Linked DNA regions of Homo sapiens. The protein of the gene in region 7 interacts with the protein of the main gene of each other region in a pairwise test. Each region holds a gene or a part of one and is shown on either strand. Other genes may lie near its edges.

What was found.
Region 1: the proteins of UBTFL1 (region 7) and RUNDC3A interact in binary tests that used the Homo sapiens proteins (3 or more experiments, as listed by UniProt).
Region 2: the proteins of UBTFL1 (region 7) and MTUS2 interact in binary tests that used the Homo sapiens proteins (3 or more experiments, as listed by UniProt).
Region 3: the proteins of UBTFL1 (region 7) and BEND3 interact in binary tests that used the Homo sapiens proteins (3 or more experiments, as listed by UniProt).
Region 4: the proteins of UBTFL1 (region 7) and TFIP11 interact in binary tests that used the Homo sapiens proteins (3 or more experiments, as listed by UniProt).
Region 5: the proteins of UBTFL1 (region 7) and NACC1 interact in binary tests that used the Homo sapiens proteins (3 or more experiments, as listed by UniProt).
Region 6: the proteins of UBTFL1 (region 7) and OR5AS1 interact in binary tests that used the Homo sapiens proteins (3 or more experiments, as listed by UniProt).

The regions. Positions count from the first base shown.
Region 1 is NC_000017.11:44,315,101-44,318,600, reverse strand, and holds part of RUNDC3A (RUN domain-containing protein 3A), read right to left. Parts: intron 3,447-3,500; coding exon 3,281-3,446; intron 3,150-3,280; coding exon 2,992-3,149; intron 2,217-2,991; coding exon 2,079-2,216; intron 1,983-2,078; coding exon 1,876-1,982; intron 1,565-1,875; coding exon of another isoform or gene 1,478-1,564; intron 1,117-1,477; coding exon of another isoform or gene 1,097-1,116; exon of another isoform or gene 740-1,096; intron 506-739; coding exon 363-505; 3' UTR 1-362. UniProt on the Homo sapiens protein: May act as an effector of RAP2A in neuronal cells.
Region 2 is NC_000013.11:29,502,339-29,506,447, reverse strand, and holds the end of MTUS2 (microtubule-associated tumor suppressor candidate 2), read right to left. Parts: intron 3,456-4,109; coding exon 3,242-3,455; 3' UTR 501-3,241; downstream 1-500. UniProt on the Homo sapiens protein: Binds microtubules. Together with MAPRE1 may target the microtubule depolymerase KIF2C to the plus-end of microtubules. May regulate the dynamics of microtubules at their growing distal tip.
Region 3 is NC_000006.12:107,105,516-107,109,015, forward strand, and holds part of BEND3 (BEN domain-containing protein 3), read right to left. Parts: intron 648-3,500; exon of another isoform or gene 562-647; intron 1-561. UniProt on the Homo sapiens protein: Transcriptional repressor which associates with the NoRC (nucleolar remodeling complex) complex and plays a key role in repressing rDNA transcription.
Region 4 is NC_000022.11:26,495,474-26,498,973, forward strand, and holds part of TFIP11 (tuftelin-interacting protein 11), read right to left. Parts: coding exon 3,396-3,500; intron 1,417-3,395; coding exon 1,248-1,416; intron 844-1,247; coding exon 600-843; intron 1-599. UniProt on the Homo sapiens protein: Involved in pre-mRNA splicing, specifically in spliceosome disassembly during late-stage splicing events. Intron turnover seems to proceed through reactions in two lariat-intron associated complexes termed Intron Large (IL) and Intron Small (IS).
Region 5 is NC_000019.10:13,131,764-13,135,263, reverse strand, and holds part of NACC1 (nucleus accumbens-associated protein 1), read right to left. Parts: intron 65-3,500; 5' UTR 57-64; coding exon 1-56. UniProt on the Homo sapiens protein: Functions as a transcriptional repressor. Seems to function as a transcriptional corepressor in neuronal cells through recruitment of HDAC3 and HDAC4. Contributes to tumor progression, and tumor cell proliferation and survival.
Region 6 is NC_000011.10:56,034,154-56,037,653, reverse strand, and holds part of OR5AS1 (olfactory receptor 5AS1), read right to left. Parts: 3' UTR 1-3,500.
Region 7 is NC_000011.10:90,084,671-90,087,631, forward strand, and holds UBTFL1 (upstream-binding factor 1-like protein 1), read left to right. Parts: upstream 1-1,279; coding exon 1,280-2,461; downstream 2,462-2,961. UniProt on the Homo sapiens protein: Essential for proliferation of the inner cell mass and trophectodermal cells in peri-implantation development.

The DNA.
Region 1 (3,500 bases), on a different chromosome or scaffold from region 7:
CAGACAGATGGAGAGGCTAGAGACTGGGAGGTGGGGGTGTGGAAGCTGGGCCACCAGTTCCTGAGGGGGCAGGGGAGATGAGTGAAGGAGCGCCAAGGTCACCAGAAGAATGGAGCAGGCTTCCCCAGGGGCTCCCTGTGGCTTGGGCACCCCTGCCTCCTGGCCCAGCGTGCTTTCTTCCGCAGCCCGTGCTGCCAAGGCAGAAAGCTAAGGTGAGCAGACGAGATCTTCCCCGAGAGAACCCTGGCTGGGTGGGTAGCGTTCTCTGGAAGGGTAGCCTGGATTGGGGGACTCTTGTTGAAGAAAGGTGGCAGGTGTCCATGGCCCCTGGCAGGTGGGGCTGGCACTGCCCATGCTGTTCCTCAGCTGGGGCTCAGTGCTGGGCTGCCCTCGGGACTGTCGCTCACCAGGCACTCGTTGGATTTGAAGCTCGCCAGGGACTTGCAGCTGGGAATGGAGGCCAGGGAGCCGCAGAGGCCCAGCATGGAGGGCGTGGGGTCCTTCCCTGGGGAGAGAGGGCAGGTGAGGCCAAGCGACCAGTCTACATGTGTGGGAGTTGGTAGAGGGGTGGGCAGTGAAGGGGCAGCCCTCAAGTCACCCCCCAGGAGACCTTGGCATATTCCACAGCATTTGCCATTTTCAGTTAAACTTTGGTTAAGCACCTGCCTGTGCCAGGCACCGTGCTGGGGACACTGTATTGTAATCGTCAGTTGATGTCTCTGTCTCCCCGTGAGGGTCATCCTCTCTCTTTGTCCATTTATTAAATACACAGTGAGCACTCGCTCTGTTCCAAGCACTGGGGATACAGAGAACGGACAAGACACGGTCCCTGCCCTCATGGAGCTCACAGTCTGGTGGGGGAGACAGACACACAGACAATCACAAACACAGTGTGATGGGGCTACATGGCCACAGCCTGCCTTGTCTCAAAGAAGATCTAGGGTCATCCAATACAGTGTGGTTGCTTATAAAAAAGAAAAGACAGGATATTCAGGCATAGGGAGAACTAGGATGGGAAAAACCAAGGTGAAGCCAGGGATGAGGTCAACACAAAGTGCATGCGTTGAAGTCCTGGGCATTCGCTCGAAGGGAGCCACTAATTTGGCTCTGAGCTTCCTGGCAGCCAAAGAGAAGGGGGAAACAATGGTCAGGCAAGTAGTTCACAGTGTGCATGAGATAAGAGCAAATTAGTCTAAGGAGTTCCCCGAGAGTTTGTGAGCCCCCGAGGATGTCATGACACTAAAAAACCACTGAGCCCTCACCATGTGACAACATTGGTGATTATCAACATCCCCATTTACAAAGAATAGACTCATGGAGGTAAAGTGATTGACCAAGCTCACATGGTCAGAGGAGGCACAGCCAGATTTATGCTGGGTTCTGCATATGCTGTGTTCTGCCACCTCAAAGTAAGCTCTCGATTGCTGTGCTAAACCCTCAAGAAAGGCTGAGAGAGGCCGGGCACAGTGGCTCACACCTGTAATCCCAGCACTTTGGGAGGCCAAGGTGGGTGAATCACTTGAGGTCAGGAGTTCGAGACCAGCCTGGCGAAACTCCGTCTCTACTAAAAATACACAAATTAGCCGCGCGTCTCTACTAAAAATACACAAATTAGCTGCGCGTGGTGGCAGGCGCTTTTAATCCCAGCTACTCGGGAGGCTGAGGCAAGGGAATCCCTTGAACCCGGGAGGCAGAGGTTGCAATGAGCTGAGATTGCGCCACTGCACTCCAACTTGGATGACAGAGTGAGACTCCGTCTCAAAAAAAAAAAAAAAAAAAAGACTAAGAGAATGAATGAGGACATGCCTTGAGGCCTCAGGGCCTTGCCTCAGCCCTTTCTGGAGGGGTACTGGGTGTTGGGTTGGGGGAGCTCACCGATGGGACCCCAGGGCTCCTCGTCCCGCGTGCCCTCTCCCAGGCGCTGGGAGTCCGAGCTCAGACTGGCTTCAGCTGACAGCGGCTCCGTGCTCATGAAGCTGTGTCTGCGGCAGAGCGAGAGCTGGTGCGCCGGTAGAGGAAGCCCTTCTTCCCCAGGACGACCCGCTCTCAGGCCCAAGCCCCACCTGGCTGGGGCTTACCTCCGGTAGAGCTTGGAGTTGCTGGCGCCCTCGGCCCCATTAAGCGTTCCCAGTGAGGGCCATTGATTGACCAGGGGTGTAGTGAGCTCCTTGGAACCCTGGGCCAGAGGGGCGTGGTCACTGGGGATCAGACCTGTCCTGGGAGGGGGAGGAGGAGTCAGGCCTGGCTGGAAGTAGGAGAAGTGAGGAAGGGAGATTCAGCAAGGGGATGAGGGAGGGGTCAGGAATGAAATCTGAGCGGCAAAAATGGGGATACGGTGTTGGGGTCAGTGGGCCAGATCCCGGGAGGAAGTGGAGGTGGTACTGGGGTGGAGGGGTGACAGGGATTCGTGCACAAATATTGGGAGTTGGAGGGAATGGTGCAGTGTTGTTGGGGTCAGCTGGGGTGATGGGGACGTCAGTGGAGGATAGTGTGGGAATCCCTGAAGTGTAAGATCGTCTTGGGGATCTTGCCGCAAGATCAGGGTGGTGGAAAGGCGTAGAGAAGAAGTGTTACAGGGATCGGCAGGGGTGAGGTCGGGGGTCACGGCGGATGATGACGGTCAGTGAGCCTGTGGTGCAGGTGAGTGAGGCGATGAATGCAATCGTGTTGAAGGTTGCAGAGCAACACCGCAGGTCCTTGTGAGTGACGTGGGGTCCCTGCAGTAAGGTTGGATGGCCACTCTAGCGGAAGATAACTGAAGGTGAAGGGTGGGCTCTGGCTGTTGGAAGTCACTGGATCTTATGCTGGGGGCAATGTTAGAAGATCATTGTGGGCATCTCGGGGTGGGGCTGGCTGGATCAGAGGGTTGATGCTGGAGAGGTGGGTGCTCGTGTCGGGTGATGTTAGAGTCGATGGAAGTGAAGATGGGGTTCACCCGGTGATGTGGTCGGGGCGGCGGGGGTCAGGGGTTAGGGCAGGCCGTGCGCTCACAGCTGCTCCTGCAGCTCCAGGATCACGCCTTCCAGCTCCCGTTTCTCGCGCTGGTTCTGCGCCGCCGCCTCCTCCAGCTGCAGCTGAAGCCGCCGGTTCTCCGCCTCCAGGTCCTTCAGCTGCGACTCGCGCAGACGCACCAGCTCCTCCAGGTAGCCCTGCGGGGCGCCGGCTCAGCCCGGGCGGCTGGGAGGACGTCCCGGCCGCGGCCCCCATCCCCGCCCCGCCCCGGGATGCCCGGATCCCCCGCCCGGCCCGCCCGCCCCCCGGGCCCGCCGGCGTCGCGCACCTTCTGCGCGTAGACGATGCGGAACTTCTGCTCCATCTTGTGCCACTTGCTGTACCAGCTGTCCTCATCGGTGACGAGCGGGAGGTACGGGTGCTCGGGCGAGTTGTCCTCGCTCGTGCTGCTCTCGGCGCTGTGCCGCTCCTCCTCGTCCGTCAGGTAGTCGTAGCTTGGGAGAGGGAGCAGTGGGCACGGCCGGTCCCGCCCCTCCCCCCGCGCGTCT
Region 2 (4,109 bases), on a different chromosome or scaffold from region 7:
CTGATCTCGCTGAAATAGCTGCCACTCCCACAGACCCTGCAAAACCACCACAGGGAACCTGCGAACCCAGCTGTCTCCCTTGTGATGGTGCCAGACACCTGTGGGACACTTCGAGGTCCAGCTGGCTAAACCGGCTGCAGCCCAAACTGAAGGCCATCGGGATGGGGGGAGCAAGCACTTTCAGGTTGAAATGAGTGAATGACCTTTTATGTCCTCCTTCCAGCCAACTCCAGCGCACCCGGCCTTGCAGAGCAGAGGCACTGAGCTCCCAAGTCCAGGGGAGGGGCTGCTCAAGCCCCCAGGCTGGAGGGGTGGGCGCAGGGACCTGGGACCTGCGGAGTCAGGGGAGAGGGGGTCTCTACAAGACTTCTCTCACGGACCATCACCCAACCCCGGCACACACAGAAAAGGGGTCCAGCCTGCAAACGCCACCCCCCTTGCCTCCCTGCCTGGGATCCCCAGCCTGAGAGGGACAGGTCTCCAGTTACATCAAGTAGATATCGCAGAAAGTCCCTCAAGTTTATTTTAATAGGCTTTAAACACAAATATGCAACACAAACTGTAGGGGCAGGAAAAGGGATGTTGTGACCCCATTCATTCAACTAATCACGGCCAGGGCTGCCCCCACCCCCATCCATTCTGACATCCAGCCAGAACCTTGTCCCAGCATGTGGTGGGCAGGGGCGGCGGTCGGGGGGCAGGCCGCCCACGCATCTCCCAAATGCCACGAAGAGACAGGTGGTATCTGGTGGGTCTGTCTGAGGCAGGTGCAGAGGCTGCAGCATCCGAACGTGGAAACGTCGCTCCAGCCTGGAAGGGGACAGAGGCAGACGCCACGTGGAGAGAAATCCGAATTCTGATGGTGTGGGGGGGTGGAAGAATTGAGAAGGAGGCACAGCAGCTGCCGCCCCATGTGTTTCGGGAGCGGTGATGGCTCAGATGAGGAGCCATACATGATGGGTGTCCGTAACAAAAGAAAAAAAACAAACAAACCACGAAGCCAGGGCCACGTGGAAATTAGCTCAAGTACCCAAGGTCAGGGCAGGTTAGGGCAAAGCTCTCACCGAAGTCCACCTAATGAGGAATTACTTAGTGCTAACGATGCTACAACTCTGACCACAGCAGCCTAATACACTGTACCACGTTCTAGCATCACACGGAAGTCAGTATTGCTGTGTAACTGCATTTAGCAGGTGCGGCTATGTAAGCGGTTCCTAATTCGGACAGCTAAGCTGTAACTGAATTTGTGTTTGCAGGTTGTGCCTGCTACTAGAATAAATACTTGTGTATTTAGTCAATGTGGCAAGATCTACTCTAATGGAATGCCCAACTCAATATCACAGTATCATGCAGAGCCACTAAAGCAAAGAGAAATGGTGGTGTTTCCATGTGGATTTACTGTGTACGTCCCCAGAAGGAGCAAGACCCTTGGAGGTTGGCTGGAGATGCACCTGAGGCCCGGAAGCCCAGCGTGGACTCATCCTAGGGCCAGGGACCATGTCTGCCTTCACGTTGGCAACACGTGTGCCGAGCAGGCGTGCCCTGGACAAGCCGACCCCGTCCGCGGGCTGTTTTCTTCCCCGTTCCATGGCTCCGGCCCCTGCAGGACCCCCTCATGGTTCTTCTCGCCTTGGGCACGCTCAAAGACAGGCCTGTGCTCAGGACAATTTTGGGGGGGTCTCAGGGAGAAAGTGCAGGGTCTTTGTCACATACAGGAAACAAGGGCATCATCATCATCACCATATCTGTTAAAACTACTTCTTCCTTTTGTGTATCATGCTCCTAATCTTCCACACCACTACATGAGTACTGTTCATATCCTAATTCTACCATTTTAGAGACAGATGCCAGTCCAGGAGCTGGTGCCCCCTGGCTGGCTGTTTCACTGGGCTCCTCTGTTTGGGAGAACCTTCTGGGTCTAAGATGGGAGCACGGTCAGCAGCAGCGTTGCCTGATCATCCAGCAGGAAGTGCAAGTGGGTTTCTGGGTGGTCGTGTGATGATCTAGCACAGCTCAGAACTGGTCCCCCGGGACAGAAATGGTGTTTTTTTTTTCTGGAAGCCCCTGCTAGAACCCCTGAGCCATCTCAATGTGCAGTGAAGGGGTTGAGTTGTAGAACCAAACTGAAGGGGGGCTGCTAGGAAATGGGGGCCTGAGGGTCCTATTTCAAAGAGTTGATCATTTACAGCATCGCATCAGAGTGAACCACATGGAAAGCTGGAGTGATGTTCCCCCTCTGTGCCTGGTCAAAATACAGACCTTGGCAGCAATTTCCTTCATGAGGATGGAGCGCGAATGGGCACAGTCATCTGCAAGGTCATCCTCACTCTTACTCAAAGGTCATGCTCTGCCATGTTTTCCGGAGGGTGCAACAATAGCTTAATGACCGAGTCTGAGATGCCATTTAGGAAAAAAGCAAAACTTGTGTTTACAAGACTATCAGAGATGAGTCACTGTCATGGGTAACATCTGCAAAACTGCTAAACCCCCTTAGGGTTTCCCACTGCTCTCCCTTATCCGCTCATGACAGGAGTATCAATAATTAAAACTTGCGAATGGAATAATAGTGATCTCACATCATGTTGACTGAGAAGCTGATTGTTCCAAAGGCAGTTACCGTTCACAAATAGCTGGTGTTCGTGTTAAAGAGAGTACCACTTGGTGGTGAGTTGAAAGGCGCTTCTTCTCTGTATCTTTTTTTTTTTCCTTTTTCTATTTTGGGTAGAAATATTCCTGGGAAGCTAGATAGAAATGCATTTTCATTTCCCAATAATTCTTAGGCACAAGTTAGAAAACTGCTGACCTTCACTAAAATATGTCAGCACTTCATGTTATAAAAAATGAAATTCAGAACCGCAGCATGTGTATATACGTATATCTAAATATACACACATATCGGTGCAGTACACAATGATTATTCAATGTATATTGAAAACTGAGCTTTTTGTAACTAACCTGAAATTCTGCAGTGAAAGTTCATTGCTCAAGAACAATTGCAAGTGTCTTTCTTTTGGCTCTAACTATGGTAAAACGTTTGCACATCAGACTTTACCATTTACACATTCCTAAGTGCCGACACCAGGGCAGTCTTACACGGGGATCAGAGGAGGACGCGCCTAGGATGCATTCGCAGCTACTGAGCATGCGCACAGGGCCAGCTCCGGCGGCACCGGGTCGGTGCTCCCTCAGGGTGGAGACCGGAGGACGAGAAGCCGGAGCTCCCGCAGGCCGTGTAGTGGCGTCATCTGGGTGTTGTGCTGACTCTGGCCGGAGAGGAGGGCCCCGAGGAGGAGCCGCGGTAAACGGGAGATGTGGGCGAGAGTTTAATCGGACTGGTCGGGTCCCCAGTTTGGAGCTTCCAAAGCAGCTCTTCATTGGTTCGGCTCAATCTCTTCTTCTCCTGGGTTTCCTTCTCAACATATTCCTGGAGGTTAGCATTTTCCTCCGACAGCTGTCTGCATGGGCACAATGACAAATAAGTAGCAATCATGCTAGTGGACACTGAACCTGAGGTCAGGACAATGGTGCAGGGCAAAGGGAGGAGGCCATGATGACCGCAGGGAGAACAGGGACCAGGGTGACCCAGTGACCAAGAACTTTGGTTGAATCATGATTTCCATTTGGCCCAATGACACATCTGTTCCCAGAGCCTCTCTGGCCAATACCCATCATCCCACAGGCCCTCTGCCCGGTCAGGGGAGGCACTGGCTGTCCACTGGACAGAGCAAAGGCCAGCGACTGAAAGGAGGGAAGCGGAGAGCTGGAGTGGGTATGCTGCCCGGAAGCTCCGAAAGGAGAGACAGCCGCGCAGCTGGCAATTGACAATGACAACAGCACAATAGCAGTGAAGAGCCGCGGGCCTTCCTGAGACTGCCAGGAAGCTGGGGGTGCCTTCTCCTGGCCTCCCTGCCCCAGGCTTGTGCCTCCACGATGGCAGGTGTCCTCCCCTGCTGGAAATGCTGCTCTAGGGGTCTGTGTCTGCCTGCTAGACTGGGAGCTCCGGAGGACAGAGGCCAAGGCTCTGCATGCTGAACTCCCAGCATCCAGCTGGTGCTAGGCACGTAACAGATGCTCAGTTAATGTTTGCCGATAAAGGCTGGTGGGTGAAA
Region 3 (3,500 bases), on a different chromosome or scaffold from region 7:
CTGGGAGTGGCCCGGGGTACCTTTCTATCAAGTTCTTTGAATAGTCAGTTGCTGTGGAGAGAGCAGACAGACCAGGTCTTTTGGGACAGCAGCGTGAGCCTAATCAGAGCTGCCAGAGGCCTGTGGGCCGGGGAGTCACACAGGACAAGCGGCAGGCCCAGAAATGGGAAGTACTTGGGCTTCCTGCAACCTGGAGGTTCAAATTCCAGCCAGCTGACTCCGGATTTTACCCTGCTAGATCAGAGATGTCCTCGCCACTGTGCTGAGGTGCCAGTCCAGGAAGACCTGGCCCCAGCAGCCCTGACCTCATGCCACTCAGGGGCAAATCCCCCTTACCCCTAAGAGCTGTTTCCAGATGCAAACTGAAGCAAACTCTCACTACCAGAAGATTCCCTTGAGAATGTGGGCCCCAGAACAGGAATGTGATTGGAACCTGAAACAATAGGGATGGTGGCTGTGTGGCCCCTGCCACACACAAAAGGTAAAGTGGAGAGAATATGCTCAGTCATTAACAAAACAAACTCAAGGATTTTAAAAATTTAACCAAGACCTAAACCTTACTTCAATCTTTTCACAATTGCCATATGTCTGATTTGATTTCAAGGAACTTCTCTGCTACAGGTGACATTGACTTCTAAAAATTAAACCTAGAAGAGGGGGACAGTAGTTAGTATTCATGTGGCACAGGCTTCATGTTCTAAGTGTTACATATGTCAACCCACACAGTCCCCACCAGCACTGCTTCTTGTGCAGATAGGGAACGGGGCGGGGGTGGGGTGATTTGTGCTGCCCAAGGGATGCAGCTGAGACCAGGGAGTAGGAAGGACTTCAGGAGACTCCCGGCATGAGAGCTTCATTCCAGCCTTCCAAGGAAGCTGGGACTGAGGAATGGGCCATGACCTCCCAGCTTTCTTTCCCTCTTCCTGCTAAGCTGTGAGCTGGGTGCAGGTGCATGAGCAAGTCAACAAGCCAGATGGGCCAGTCTGTGACCAAGGCAGGAATTAGTGCAGGTGACCCTCCAAAAAATGGAATTCTTTACTAAACTTTGGAGTCAGATGGAACTGCATGAAACCCTGGCTTTTAATCCAGTTTTTTCATTTTTTTTTTCCCCAGAGATGGGGGTCTTGCTCTGTTACCCAGGCAGAGTGCAGCAGTATGATCAGAGCTCACTGTAGCCTTGAACTCCTGGGCTCAGATGATTCTCCCATCTCAGCCTGTGAGTAGCTAGGACTATAGGTGCACGCCACCACACCCAGCTAATTTTTTATTTTTTGTAGAGACAGGGTCTCCAGGTGTTGCCCAAAATGGTCTCAAACTCCGGGCTTCCAGCAACCCTCCGGCCTCAGCCTCCCAAAGTGCTGGGATTTCAGATGCAAGCCACCACACCTGACCCTTAACCCAGCCCAGTTTTCAAAGAGGGCTTTTTTTTTTTTTTTTTTGAGACGGAGTCTCGCTCTGTCGCCCAGACTGGAGTGCAGTGGCACAATTTCGGCTCACTGCAACCTCTGCCTCCCGGGTTCAAGTGATACTCCTGCCCCAGCCTCCCAAGTATCTGGGATTACAGGCATGCACCACCACATCCGGCTAATTTTTGTATTTTTAGTAGAGACAGAGTTTCACCATGTTGGCCCAGCTGGTCTGGAACTCCTGACCTCAGCTGATCCACCCGCCTCGGCCTCCCAAAGTGCTGAGATTACAGGTATGAGCCACTGCACCCAGCCCAAAAAGGTTTTTAACCGAGTTAAAATATTTAGCATCTAACACCAGGCCAGCTGTTTACCTACCCATCCAAGCTGTATTCTGTAATAGGAGCTGGACACATCTACCTCACCTCAAAAAGTTTTTGTGAAAACTACAAAGGAGAAAGTGTCTGACACATAGCACTCAAAGTTACCTATTATAAAGCTTCTTTTTTTTTTTTTAAGGAAAAGATGTTTAAAGTGCATTTTATTTTTTTATTTTTTTGAGACAAAGTCTCATTCTGTCGCCCAGGCTGGAGTGCAGTGGCACAATCTTGGCTCACTGCAACCTTTGCCTCCTGGGTTCAAGCGATTCTCCTGCCTCAGCCTCCCAAGCAGCTGGGATTACAGGTGGGCACCACCATGCCTGATTAATTTCTGTATTTTCAGTAGAGACGGGGTTTTACCATGTTGGCCAGGATGGCCTTGAACTCCTGGCTTCAAAGTTCCACCTGCCTTGGCCTCCCAAAGTTCTGGGATTACAGGTGTGAGCCATCCCGCCCAGCCTAAAGTACATTTTAATAGTGAATTTTTAAGAACTGCAAATTAAATAAAATGGCTTAAAAGATTAAAAAGGTTTAGTAACTTTTCTTTCCAATGAAACATAGAAACTGGAGGGAGGGGGATGAAACCAAATAAAATGCTCTCCCTGAGGACAGGAGGAATGTTCCCATGCCATCCACTCTGGTGCCGCGGGTCTCTGGGTTCACAGGACCGGCTGGGAGCCTCAAGGGTCTCAGGACCCAGCCCCCTTGGCAGTGGCATCCTGCCCAAGGGACTTGCAGGACATGTTCGCAATTTGTTTTTATTTTTAGGCACATCTGCAAATGCAGTTTGAAAAATACCAGTCCTCACAAAACCAGGGCAATTTTCCCCAGAGTTTTTCTAAAGCTGTAATTGTAGCTGCCTTCCTTATTCAGTCAGAGCACAACCTCATCTTCCGCATGCAGCCAAGCACAGCCGCACAACCCTGCCCGCGCGCCTGTGATTTGGCGTCTTAATCTTTGGTCACTTGCGTCTTCTGAGTCTTGAGTAAATGTGCCATCTTCCTCAGCTAAGAAGTTCCACTTACGTTCTCCCCAACCTCGTGGAGGGCTACCTCCTCACATGGCTCACAGGAGACTCTGCGTATTAACCTTGGCATGCAGAAGCTGAGGCTCAAGGTGGAAGGAGGGACCGCACATTCCAGCATCCAGCCATGTGACTGACTGCACAACGGTGACTAATTTTCCTAGGAGGTATAAGCTGAGTTTCCGCTGCACTTCCCATTTTATCAAGTGTTTTATTTTGTGACCACACAAGCTGATTAGGGTTCGGGGCAGTTGGGTGTATACTGCACCCCCAATCCTAAGCAAGCCTCAGTCCTTCGCTCTGCTAGCTCCATGCTCAAACCAAAACAGCCCCTGACATACAAGAAAAGGCCAGTAAATGACTTATTCAATTGAGCAATCAATGCCCTGATACTGATGCAACTGTGTTTCACTAGTCAGAAATAACTGAAAATCAGACAAGAGGAGAGGTGGCCACAGGTAGAAAAAAAATTAAGAGGGTTGATTGATTGATTGATTTGAGATGGAGTCTCGCTCTGTTGCCCAGGATGGAGTGCAGTGGTGCGACCTCGGCTCTCTGCAACTCTGCATCCCGCGTTCAAGCAATTCTCCTGTCTCAGCCTCCCGAGTAGCTGGGACAACAGTCATGTGCCACCACACCTGGCTAATTTTTGTATTTTTCACTAGAGATGGGGTTTGGCCATGTTGGCCA
Region 4 (3,500 bases), on a different chromosome or scaffold from region 7:
CCATGTTGCTCAGGCTGTAATCTGCTTTTAAAGGTCAAATTTAAGCTCCCGACATAGCGATTCTTAAAATATATATGTGTATATATATACACATATATATATGTGTGTGTGTGTATACATATATACATATATATGTGTGTATATACATATATGTGTATATACATGTGTATATATACATGTATATGCATGTGTGTATATATATACATATATGTGTGTGTGTGTGTGTGTATGTATATATATTTTTTTTGCTAACCTGGAAATAACTCCCTAATAATTTAGAGTAAAATACCACAAAAATTTTAGAACTCCAATGGCTGTCCTATTACCAGAAGCCAAAACCAATCGGGAAAACCACAAGGCACAGAGTCCGATATTGTCACTGTCGACTATTAGTGACTGTTGTAAATAAACAGCGGAAAGGACCCAAGTTACATTTATGTTCAGCCTCTGAACAAAATGTTACCTTTTTCACAGCAAGGAATATTGTGTACTAAGCACTTTCATGAACATAAAGGCGATGCTTTAAATCATCACTGCTAACCACAGAAACCAGGGCACCAAAGCTGCTGGGCTTGGAATGCATTTCCCCTTATCCTTACCCAGCTTGGGCACTATGTTTTTGACCATGAATGCTTCCCAGGAGCCAGGAGTGAAGACATCCTTCCAGGGCTGGAGGATGAGCTTGGCAGAGGAGTCGCTGGGGTGCCACTTCTGCAGGGCGCTGGACAGCTTACTACGGATGGGGGAATAGAGTGGCTCCAGCCGTGCCTGCATAAGGGGCAGCCATGGGTGGATCCAAGAGTGGATGGGAACAGTGTCTGTGAGCGGGTTCCAGTTTTCCACCTGCGAAGTGGGGAGGAGAAACAGTTCATGTCGCCTGTGGGGCAGTCACATAACACCCCTGTGTGGCTAAAGGCAAGAGCTGCCCCTGGAGGAGGCCCTGTGCTCTCTGAGGCCCACAGTCCTTTGTACATTGCCAAACAAATATGCCCATCCATTTGATTACATCTCAGAAACAGCACAATTCTAATTTTAGTGACAAAATCAAGAAAATGAATTCCCTCCTGAGGGTGGCTTGGGGGAAAAAGTGCTGAGAAAAAGGCTGGAATTAACACTATAGGTCAATAGTTGTGTTGACAAATTCCGTTAATTCCAGGCGTTTTAACAGCACTGAGATAATGAAGCCACAGACTGAACAAGTCCCTGTGATTAGTGATGACGACTGTTTCCCATGACTCTCATCCCACCTCCTTTTGCAGCTTGGGGAAGATGAGTTGGTCCAGTATGTTATCTAAGATCCACACAGGAATAATGTGCACCCAACTATCCAAAAAGTCCACCATCGGGTCACAGTTCCTTGGCTGCCACTGGGTGACAATATTTCGAACAAAAGGCATCCAGACTTCCCATATCAACCTATGGGAGAAAGGCAGAGGACAGGCTGGTTAATTACACTGACTGGTTTCAAAGTACACCACCACCACCTGCCTCTCTAGAATCAGGAATAAAAATGCAACAGCATGGAAATCCAATCAGAGGAAACCATCAGGCCAGTCACCATACTGGCCAGACTGAGCCTGCCTCTTCCTTGTTCTCTTGACTCTCCTCTCAATCTGAGGCCTCAGTCTCCTAGGTAGTGCCCATCCACCTGGCAGAGCTGCTTTAGGGTCACAAGGGCCTCTTCCCAGGTATCAAGTGCTTTCCCACCTATAGGCTTCTATTCATGAGCTGATGCCTCTCACCCTCTTATCACAATTTCAACGTCACCTCCCCTAAGACCTCTGTGCCAACCCCCGTTCCAAGTAGGTTGCTCCTGCAGTTCTCTATCGCTGTACCTGGTGTGCATCCTGCCTTTATTTGTTCACTACCTTACTTCCCATCTGCTTTTTTTGCTGTACTGTAGACAGAGGCTGTCTGCTGTGCTCCTAGGGTAAGCCCAGCACCTAGCACAAGCATGATACGCAACAGACATTTGACAAGTGTCAGCTGAATTCATGGCCAAATGTAATTGTACAACCACTATGGAAAACAGTGTGGAGATTCCTTAGAGAACTAAAAGTACAACTACCATTTGATCCAGCAATCCCACTACTGGGTATCTACCCAGAGGAAAAGAAGTCATGGCTGGGCACGGAGGCTCACGCCTGTAATTCCAGCACTCTGGGAGGCCAAGGCAGGCGGATCACGAGGTCAAGAGATCGAGACCATCCTGGCCAACATGGTGAAACCCTGTCTCTACTAAAAATACAAAAATTAGCTGGGCATGGTGGCGAGCGCCTGTAGTCCCAGCTACTCGAGAGGCTGAGGCAGGAGAATCGCTTGAACCCGGGAGGCAGAGGTTGCAGTGAGCCGAGATCGTGCCACTGCACTCCAGCCTGGCGACAAAGCAAGACTTCATCTCAAAAAAAAAAAAAAAAAAAAGTCATATACGAGAAAGATACTTGCTCACACAAATTTACAGCAGCACAATTCGCAGTTGCAAATATGTGGAACCAACCCAAATGCCCACCAATCAACAAGTGGATAAAGAAACTGTGGTATAAATATAATGGAATATGACTCAGCCATAAAAAGGAATGAAATAATGGCATTCGCAGCAAGTTGGTTGGAATTGGAGACTATTATTCTAAGTGAAGTAACTCAAGAATGGAAAACCAAACATCTTATGTTCTCACTTATAAGTGGAAGCTAAGTTATGAGGATGCAAAGGCATAAGAATGACACAATGGACTTTGGGGACTCGGGGAAAGGATGGGAAGGGGGTGAGGGATAAAAGACTACAAATTGAACCAGGCACGGTGGCTCACGCCTGGAATCCCAGCATTTTTTTGGAGGCCAAGGCGGGTGGATCACGAGGTCAGGAGATTGAGATCATTCTGGCCAACATGGTGAAACCCTGTCTCTACTAAAAATACAAAAATTAGCTGGGCGTGGTGGCGTGTGCCTGTGATCCCAGCTACTTGGGAGGCTGAGGCAGGAGAATCGCTTGAACCAGGCAGTTGGCGGTTGCAGTGAGCTGCGATCACGCCACTGCACTCCAGCCTGGTGACAGAGTGAGACTCCATCTCAAAAAAAAAAAAAAAAAAAAGACTACAAATTGGATTCAATGTATACTTCTCAGGAGATGGGTACACCAAAATCTCACAAATCACCACTAAAGAACTTACTCATGTAACCAAATACTACCTGTTCCCCAAACCCTATGGAAATAAAACATTTCAAAAAAATTAAAAAAAAAAAATTCATAGCCAAATGAATTTAAATTCCTAAAGCACTGTCAGCATGAGCAGAGAATTAATCAAGGCCAGCACTGCTGCCTTCCCCCACCTTCAGCAATCCTTCCCAACCCCCCAGGAGAAAGGAGCTGGGGTACAGAGCCCTGCTCTGTGGTGTACCTGTGAAAGGCATCTGCTGAGAGGTCCTGTCCGCCATGGGACAAGAGCTGGTCATTCTCTAGGAGGCTTTTCCACTTAGAGATGATCTCGGTGCCATAAGTGCAG
Region 5 (3,500 bases), on a different chromosome or scaffold from region 7:
CACTCCAGGATGCTGTTGCCGAAGTTCGGGATCTCCATCTGCAGTGTCTGGGCCATGGCAGCGGCTGCACGAGGGGCAGGGAGGAATGGAGAGACAGAGACGGAGGGACGGGGTCAGGCGGCAAATGTGGGTGCTGGCCTAGCCCTGGCCCCAAAGACCTCCCCTGCTGGAGGGACATCCGCACGATGGAATCTACCATGGTGCTAAACCACACAGAGCCCTCTACCCTATCTGTCCTGGTACAGACTCACTTTTACAATATGTGGTCAAATCTGCTAAGCTAGCTGCAGACCAGGGTGGCCACACGCTATCCCTTGCAAAGAGGAGGGGGCAAAGGCATACTTATTCATATGTACTTGAAGAGTAACTGAATATGCTTAAGTGCTCGGAAGAGTGGCTAGGACACAGTGTGCTACCTCTGAGTGCCAGCTATTGCAAGCACCAGGTACATATATGGTATCTCTTCAGGGTACTGGCATGGAAATGCCAGAAAGGCAGGGTCATCTGACTGTGCAGCAGAGTCTGCAGTGCTGGGCACATGCCCTTCAATCACTGTTTGTATAATGACTAAATGACCACTCAAGAAATTACATGAGGTCAGGCGCAGTGGCTCACTCATGTAATCTCAGCACTTTGGGAGGCTGAGGCAGGCGGATCACTTGAGGCCAGGAGTTCGAGACCAGCTTGGCCAACGTGGCAAAACCCTGTCTACCAAAAATACAAAAATTAGCCAGGTAAGGTGGTGTGGGTATGTAGTCCCAGCTACTAGGGAGGCTGAAGCCAGATAATTACTTGAACCCAGGAGACAGAGGTTGCAGTGAGCCGAGATTGTGGCACTGCACTTCAGCCTGGGGCATAGAGTAAGACTGTCTCAAAAAAAAAAAAGGAAAAAGAAATTGCATGAGGCTGGGTGCAGTGGCTCATGCCTGTAATCCCAGCACTTTGGGAGGGCAAGGCGTGTGGATCACTTGAGCCTAGGAGATTGAGACCAGCCTGGGCAGCATGGTGAAACCCTGCCTCTTACGAAAAATACAAAAATTACCCCGGCATGGTGGAGCACACCTGTGGTCCCAGCTACTAGGGAGGGTGTGGTGGGGGGTGGATCTGTTGTTGAGCCCAGGTCAAGGCTGCAGTGAGCTGTGATTGCGCCACTATACTCCAGCCTGGGATACAGACAGAGACACTGTCTCAAAAATAAATAAATAAATAAATAACTTACATGAAAACATCTCTAGTCATCAGGGAAATTAGAAGAAAACATCATCAGGGAAATGCAAATCCTAACCACAATGAGACACCATCTCACACCCACTAGGATGGCTGGAATCAAAAAAGTTGGTGAGGATGAGAAATCCAGAACCCATTTCCACTGCTTGTGGGAATGTCAAATGGCACAGCCACCATGGAGAACAGTCTGACGGTTCCTCAAACGGTTAAAGAGAGTTACCATATGACCCAGCGATTCCACTCCTGGAATTTATGCCCAGGAAAAACGAAAACATTTGCCTGCATTGAAAACCTGTAAACAAACGTTCACAGCAGCATTATTCACAATAGCCCAAAGGTGGAAACAATCCAAACGTCCATCTGCGGATGGATGGGCCAACTAAACATGGTCAGTCCATACAATGGGATATTATTCAGCTATAAAAAGAAAGGAAATTCTGACACATGCTACAACATGGATGTCCCTGGAAAAGATTATTCCAACAGAAAGAGGCCAAACAAAAGGACCACAGATTGTATGATCCATTTATAGGAAATGTCCAGGACAGGCAAATCCACGCAGACAGGAGGCAGATTAGTGGTTGCCAGGGGCTGGGAGGCGGGGAGAATGGGGGTGTGGTGAGGGAAAGCAAAGGGAAGGCAAAGGTGTGTGGGGTTTATTCTTTTTTCTTTTTTTTTTTTGAGATGGAGTCTCACTCTGTCGCCCAGGCTGGAGTGCTGGGATTCCAGGTGTGAGCTATCACGCCCGGCCTCCTCTGTAATTCTATAGGGTCTCTAGAGGGCAGTGGTCCTAACTGGGCAGAGTGCGAGTGAGAAGGCTTCCCTGAGTAAGGCAGATCTTTCCAGACACTCCAGCTGGCCAGCAGGAGAAAGTAACAAGTACATGCAAAGGCCCTGGTGCAGGAATGCACACCTTCCCTCCCTTCCAGTTAGCTCTCAAGCACCTTCCATGTTTCATTAGCAACTCCACTCAGATCTGCCTCCCTGGGCTGGGCACTGAGAATACAGTGGCCACTCTCCTCCTAATCTGGTAACACCCGTTCCGTCTGAAAGGGCTGCTGTGAGGAATAGAAACGGCAAGTGTTCAAAGGCTCAGAGGTACAACCTAAGGTTGAGTCCTGGCTCCAGCACCGACCTGCTCCTCTGACCAGGAGCTCCAAATCTCTGCTTTCTCCATTTGGAAATCGAGGCTGAGGAGGTCAACCTGATTCTACAAACTCAACCTACACTTATTGTTACTGAATGATCATTCAAGAAATTACACGGAAACATTACTAGTCATCAGGGAAATGTGAATCCTAACCACAGTGAGATACCATCTCACTTACTGAGCTGCTACCCTGGCAGGCCACAAGCAAGACACAGGCCCTGCCCCTTACAACACCCAGGCGAATGGAGGAACCAACTCACAACTTCTATGAGCTCCCCGAATCCTCTTAGCAAGACTTCAGGGCTGGTTTCATACTCCCCTTGCAAAGCTGGAAAAACTGAGGTCATGTGGAAATTGAGGACTGTCCTGAGGTCATCTAAAAATTCATTCACCAGGTTCAAAATTCAAAAGATATGTCCTGAAGGGCGGGATGACTCAAGCCTGTAATCCCAGCACTTTTTTTTTTTTTTTTTTTTTTAAGACAGAGTCTTGCTCTGTTACCCAGGCTGGAGTGCAGTGGTGCCATCTCGGCTCACTGCAACCTCCGCCTCCCAGGGTCAAGTGATTCTCAGCCTCCTGAGTAGCTGGGCCTACAGGCGTGTGCCACCATGTCCGGCTAATTTTTGTACTTGTAGTAGAGATGCGGTTTCACCACATAGGCCAGGCTGGTCTTGAACTACTGACCTCAAATGATCCACCTGCCTTGGCCTCCCAAAGTGTAGGATTACAGGCATGAGCCACCACACCTGGCCAATCCCAGCACTTTGGGAGGCCGAGTCAGGTGGATCACCTGAGGTCGGGAGTTCGAGACCAGCCTGGCAAACACGGTGAAACTCCATCTTTATTAAAAATACAAAAATTAGCTGGGTGTGGTGGCCGGTGCCTGTAATCCCAGCTACTCGGGAGGCTGAGGCAGGAGAATCACTTGAACCCGGGAGGGTGGAGGTTGCAGTGAGTCAAGATTGTGCCATTGCACTCTAGCCTGGGCAACAGAGTGAGACTATGTCTCAAAACAAAAACAAACAAAAAAACCCAAGATATGTCCTGAGCTATCTGCTGCCCCTACCACTTACATGCAAAAAGTGGTAAGGCCAAGATTCAAACCAGGGTCTGCCTAGGCACC
Region 6 (3,500 bases), about 34 Mb from region 7:
TCATATCCATGAGCATGGAATGTTTTTCCATTTGTTTGTGTCCTCTCTTATTTCCTTGAGCACTAATTTGTAGTTCTCCTTGAAGAGGTCATTCATATCCCTCGTAAGTTGTATTTCTAGGTATTTTACACTCTTTTGTAGCAATTGTGAATGGCAGTTCATTCGATTTGGCTCTGTTTGTCTGTTATTGGTGTATAGGAATGCTTGTGATTTTTGCACATTGATTTTGTATCCTGACATTTTGCTGAAGTTGCTTATCAGCTTAAGGAGATTTTGGCCTGAGACGATGGGGTTTTCTAAATATACAATCATGTCATCTGCAAACAGAGACGATTTGACTTCCTCTTTTCCTATTTGAATATCCTTTATTTCTTTATCTTGCCTGATTGCCCTGGCCAGCACTTTCAATACTATGTTGAATAGGAGTGGTGAGAGAGGGCATCATTGTTTTGTGCCGGTTTTCAAAGGGAATGCGTCCAGTTTTTGCCCATTCAGTATGATATTGGCTGTGGGTTTGTCATAATAGCTCTTATTATTTGGAGATATGTTTGTCAATACCTAGTTTATTGAGAGTTTTTAGCACGAAGGGTGTTGAATTTTATCAAAGGCCTTTTCGGCATCTGTTGAGATAAACATGTGCTTTTGTCATTGGTTCTGTTTATGAGATGGGTTACGTTTATTGATTTGCGTATGTTAAGCCAGCCTTGCATCCCAGGGATAAAGCCAATTTGATTGGTGGATAAGCTTTTTGATGTGCCGCTGAATTCAGTTTGCCAGTATTTTTTGAGGATTTTTGCATCATGTTCATCAGGGATATTGGCCTGGCATGTTCTTTTTTTGCTGTGTCTCTGCCAGGTTTTCATATCAGGATGATGCTGGCCGCATAAAATGAGTTAGGGAGGAGCCTCTCGTTTTCTATTGCTTGGAATAGTTTCAGAAGGAATAGTACCAGCTCCTCTTTGTATGTCTGGTAGAATTTGGCTGGTCCTGGACTATTTTTTGTTGGTAGGCTATTAATTACTGCCTCAATTTTGGGACTTGTTTTTGGTCTATTCATGGATTTGACTTCTTCCTGGATTAGACTTGGGAGGGTGTGTGTTTCCAGGAATTTAACCATTTCTTCCAGGTTTTCTAGTTTATTTGTGTGGAGGTGTTTATAGTATTCTCTGATGGTAGTTTGTATTTCTGTGGGAACAGTGGTGATATCCCCTTTATAATTTTTTATTGTGTCTATTTGATTCTTCTCTCTTTTCTTCTTTATTAGTCTGGCTAGTGTTCTTTCTATTTTGTTGATCTTTTCCAAAAACCAACTCCTGGATTCATTGATTTTTTGAAGGGTTTTTCATGTCTCTATCTCCTTCAGTTCTGCTCTGATCTTAGTTATTTCTTGTCTTCTGAGGCTTTTGAATTTGTTTGTTCTTGTTTATCTAGTTCTTTTAATTGTGATGTTAGGGTGTTGATTTTAGATCTTTCCTGCTTTCTCTTGTGGGCCTTTAGTACTGTGAATTTTCCTCTAAACACTGCTTTAGCTATGTCCCAGAGATTCTGATACCTTGTGTCTTTGTTCTCATTGGTTTCAAATAACTTATTTATTTCTGCTTTATTTTCATTATTTACCCAGTAGTCATTCATGAGCAGGTTGTTCAGTTTCCATGTAGATGTGTGGTTTTGAGTGAGTTTCTTAATCCTGAGTTCTAATTTGATTGCACTGTGGTCTGAGAGACTGTTATGATTTCCATTGTTTTGCATTTGCTGAGGAGTATTTTACTTGCAATATTGTGGTCAATTTTAGAATAAATGCAATGTGGTGCTGAGAATAATGTATATTCTATTGATTTGGGGTGTAGAGTTCTGTAGAGGTCTATTAGGTCTGCTTGGTCCAGAGCTGAGTTCAAGTCCTGAATATCCTTGTTAATTTTCTGTCTTGGTCTGTCTAATGTTGACTGTGGGGTGTTAAAGTCTCCCACTATTTTTGTGTGTTAGTCTAAGTCTCTTCATAGATCTCTAAGAACTGGCTTTATGAATTTGGGTGCTCTTGTATTGGGTACATATATATTTAGTATAGTTAGCTCTTCTTGTTGCATTGATCCTTTTACCATTATGTATTGCCTTCTTTATCTCTTTTGATCTTTTTTGGTTATAGTCTGTTTTATCAGAGACTAGGATTACAACCCCTGTGCTTTGTTGTTTTTTTTTTCTTTTTTCTTTATTTGCTATCCATTTGCTTGGTAAATATTCCTCCATCCCGTTATTTTGAGCCTATGTATGCTTTGCACATGAGATCGGTCTCCTGAATACAGCACACCAATCGGTCTTGACTCTATCCAATTTGCCAGTCTGTGGCTTTTAACTGGGGCTTTCAGCCCATTTACATTTAAGGTTAATATTGTTATGTGTGAATTTGATCCTGTCATTATGATGCTAGCTGGTTATTTTGCCCATTAGCTGATGTGGTTTCTTCGTAGTGTCAATGTTCTTTAAAATTTGTTTTTTTTGCAGTGGCTGTTACCAGTTGTACCTTTCCATGTTTAGTGCTTCCTTCAGGAGCTCTTGTAAAGCAGGCCTGGTGGTGACAAAATCTCTCAGCATTTGCTTTTCTGTAAAGGATTTTATTTCCCTCCACTCATGAAGCTTAGTTTGGCTGAATATGAAACTCTGCATTTAAAATTCTTTTCTTTAAGACTGTTGGATATTGGCCCCCACTCACTTCTGGCTTATAGGGTTTCTGCTGAGACAGCCGCTGTTAGTCTGATGGGCTTCCCTTTGTGGGTAATGTGAGCTTTCTCTCTGGCTGTCCTTAACACCTTAACATTTTTTCCTTCATTTCCACCTTGGTGAATCTGATGATTATGTGTCTGGGGGTTGCTCTTCTTGAGGTGTATCTTTGTGGTGTTACATGTATTTCCTGAATTTGAATGTTGGCCTGTCTTGTTAGGTTGGGGAGTTTCTCCTGGATGATATCCTGAAGAGTGTTTTCCAAGTTGGTTCCATTCTCCCCCTCACTTTCAGGTACACCAATCAAATATATGTTTGCTCTTTTCACATAGTCCCATAATCCCTGGGGGCTTTGTTCATTTCTTTGCATTCTTTTTTCTCTAATCTTGTCTTCAAGCTTTATTTCATTAAGTTGATCTTCAATCTCTGATATCCTTCCTTCTGTTTGATCGATTTGGCTATTGATGCTTGTGTATGCTTCATGAAGTTCTCGTGCTGTGTTTTTCAGCTCCATCAGGTTATTTATGTTCTCTTCAAACCAGTTATTCTAATTAGCAATTCCTCTAACCATTTTTCGAGGTTCTTAGCTTCTTTGCATTGAGTTAGGACATGCTCCTTTAGCTCAGAGGAGTTTGATATTACCCAATTCTTCTATTTGTTATTACCCAATTACTTCCATCAATTCATCAAACTCATTCTCTGTCCAGTTTTGTTTCCTTGCTGGCGTGGAATTGTGATCCTTTGTGGGAGAAGAGATGTCTGGTTTTAGAAATTTTCAGCCTTTT
Region 7 (2,961 bases):
GAATTACTTCAGGCAAGACAGAATTGCTAAAAAAAAAAAAAAAAAAAGGAGTAGTCATCAGATCTGCCACATTTTCAAGTTTTGTAATGGAAAATGGCAGGTATTCTGGAGGGAGTTTCTGGAGGAAGCCAAACTTTCACTGAGGCTTAAATATGATGAACAATTAACCAAATAAAGTTGAAATGTTTTATAATTGTCATTAAATCCTTGATATTTAAAAGGAGAAGCAGTATGGTTCTTAGAAAGCATTCATTCCCGGCCCAGGAGTGGTGGCTCACGCCTGTAATCCTAGCGCTCTGGGAAGCCGAGGCAGGCGGATCACCTGAGGTTGGGAATTCGAGACCAGCCTGGCCAACATGGTGAAACCCCATCTCTACTAAAAAATACAGAAAAATTAGCCAGTCGTGGTGGCACATGCCTGTAATCTCAGCTGCTTGGGAGGCTGAGGCAGGAGAATCACTTGAAGCTGAAAAACAGAGGTTGCAGTGAGCCCAGATTGCCCCACTGCACTCTAACCCGGGCGACAAGAGTGAAACTCCGTCTCAATTAAAAAAAAAAAAAAGAAATAAAAGAAAGCAAGAAAGCATTAATTCCCATGCACTGGTCCTGGAGAATCTATAATTCAGTCTTTTATCACAGGTTCACATTCCCTTATAAAAAGGTAACAGTTGGATGCATGTCTGGAGGAGCTCTTGGGCTTGTCCGATTGTATCTTTAACTTCTCATCTGCACCTTTAGCTATGGCTATTTGGGCTGTGCTTAGAAAATGGCCATACTCAGGGCACTGTAGAATGAACAGTCCTTCCTGTTTAGGCATTTCTCCTTCCACTTTAACTTCTGACTCTGTCTTCAGGGCATTTCTGTTATATTAAGCTTCTTAAGTGATGAGTGGTCTGGTGTTTGTGTTATGCAACTCAATTTAAGATAGGTTCATGTGAGATCTGGCAGAAAGCAGGCTGGGGTGGGGTGTGGAGATACTGAATATTGTGCATGTAGCATATGAAAGGCAAACATAAATTTAATTCAGAAACAGGCAATGTTTATTTATAGTTAAGGGTCAAATGAATTATACAAGGGACATATGACAAATAGGATGTAATTTGCTTCATTAATCCAAATGAAGGAGAGTAACTTTCTTTCTCCTCAGAAATACAGAATCACACATACTGCAATACTTCCAGAAATAAATCATCCACTGAGTCTTAAAAGTAAAGAACTCTGTGTTCTTGCTCTGGTGTCTACATAACCGGGATCTTATAAGTAAGCCAAAGACATCTAAATGGCTTTGCCTAGAAGCCAAGGCCATTGGTCCAACAAAGACATCTTGAGGTTACTGGAATGCATGGAGAATAATCGCCCATCTGATGACAACAGCACGTTTAGCTCAACTCAGTCACACATGGACTGGGGAAAAGTAGCTTTTAAAAACTTTTCTGGTGAAATGTGCAGACTCAAATGGTTAGAGATTTCTTGCAACTTGAGAAAATTCGGCACTTTGAAAGAATTAGTCCTGGAAGCTAAGAAATGTGTTAAAAAGATGAACAAAAGCCAAAAATACAGGAACGGTCCAGACTTTCCAAAGAGGCCCCTTACTGCTTACAATCGCTTCTTCAAGGAGAGTTGGCCCCAGTACTCCCAAATGTACCCTGGGATGAGAAGCCAGGAACTGACCAAAATCCTGTCAAAGAAATACAGGGAACTCCCAGAGCAGATGAAACAGAAATATATTCAGGATTTCCGGAAGGAAAAGCAAGAATTTGAGGAAAAACTTGCTCGATTCAGGGAAGAACACCCTGATTTAGTCCAGAAGGCCAAGAAATCTAGTGTCTCCAAGAGGACTCAAAACAAAGTGCAAAAGAAGTTTCAGAAAAATATTGAAGAAGTGAGGTCTCTTCCAAAAACGGATCGATTTTTCAAGAAGGTAAAATTTCATGGAGAGCCTCAGAAACCCCCCATGAATGGATACCACAAGTTTCACCAAGATTCCTGGTCAAGTAAAGAGATGCAACATTTGTCAGTGAGGGAGCGCATGGTAGAGATTGGCAGACGCTGGCAGCGCATCCCGCAGAGCCAGAAGGATCATTTTAAGAGCCAGGCTGAGGAGCTGCAGAAGCAATACAAGGTGAAATTGGATCTCTGGCTCAAGACTTTGTCACCTGAAAATTATGCTGCATACAAAGAATCGACCTATGCTAAGGGTAAGAATATGGCCATGACAGGAGGCCCGGACCCCAGGTTGAAACAAGCAGATCCACAGTCCTCATCAGCAAAGGGTCTGCAAGAAGGGTTTGGGGAGGGGCAAGGGCTCCAGGCTGCAGGAACAGATTCATCACAGACTATTTGGGTAAACTGTCATGTCTCCATGGAACCAGAAGAGAACAGGAAGAAAGATAGAGAAAAGGAAGAAAGCAGTAACTCTTCAGACTGCAGCAGTGGAGAAGAAATAGAAGTTGATGTCTGAGGGCAGTGGCTCTAGTGCAGCTTCCTTGTTTTTTTTTTTTTGTTTGTTTGTTTTCTTTTCTTCCTTCCTCCCGCAAAGTAGGACAGGTTGGGAAGAAAGAAGCAACTTGGTGCAGCACTCTCCTACATCAAGATTATGAACCTGGGAGGAACTCTTTGGGAAGAATAAATATAAGTTTGAGCCAATACTGGCCTTATCCTTAAAAAAACAAACAAACAAATATCATCCCTTTCCCGAGGAACTTTATGCAATTAAGGCTTCTGAAATGAAGAGATGATTACGTTGTGGGGTACACACTGTATTAGACTGAATATTTCTGAAGCAAGAAGCTTTGCTTTACTCATTTTTGTCCTGCCAAAGGTGGTAGGGGGATACCCATAAGCCTGGGACCCAAACTTCCCTGTGGAAATGTTTTTCAGGACTCCTGCACTAAATCTAAGGTCGGGGATATTTGATGAAAGGTGGGGTAGGTGTCTTAAGAGAATTGTCCCACTCTTGAT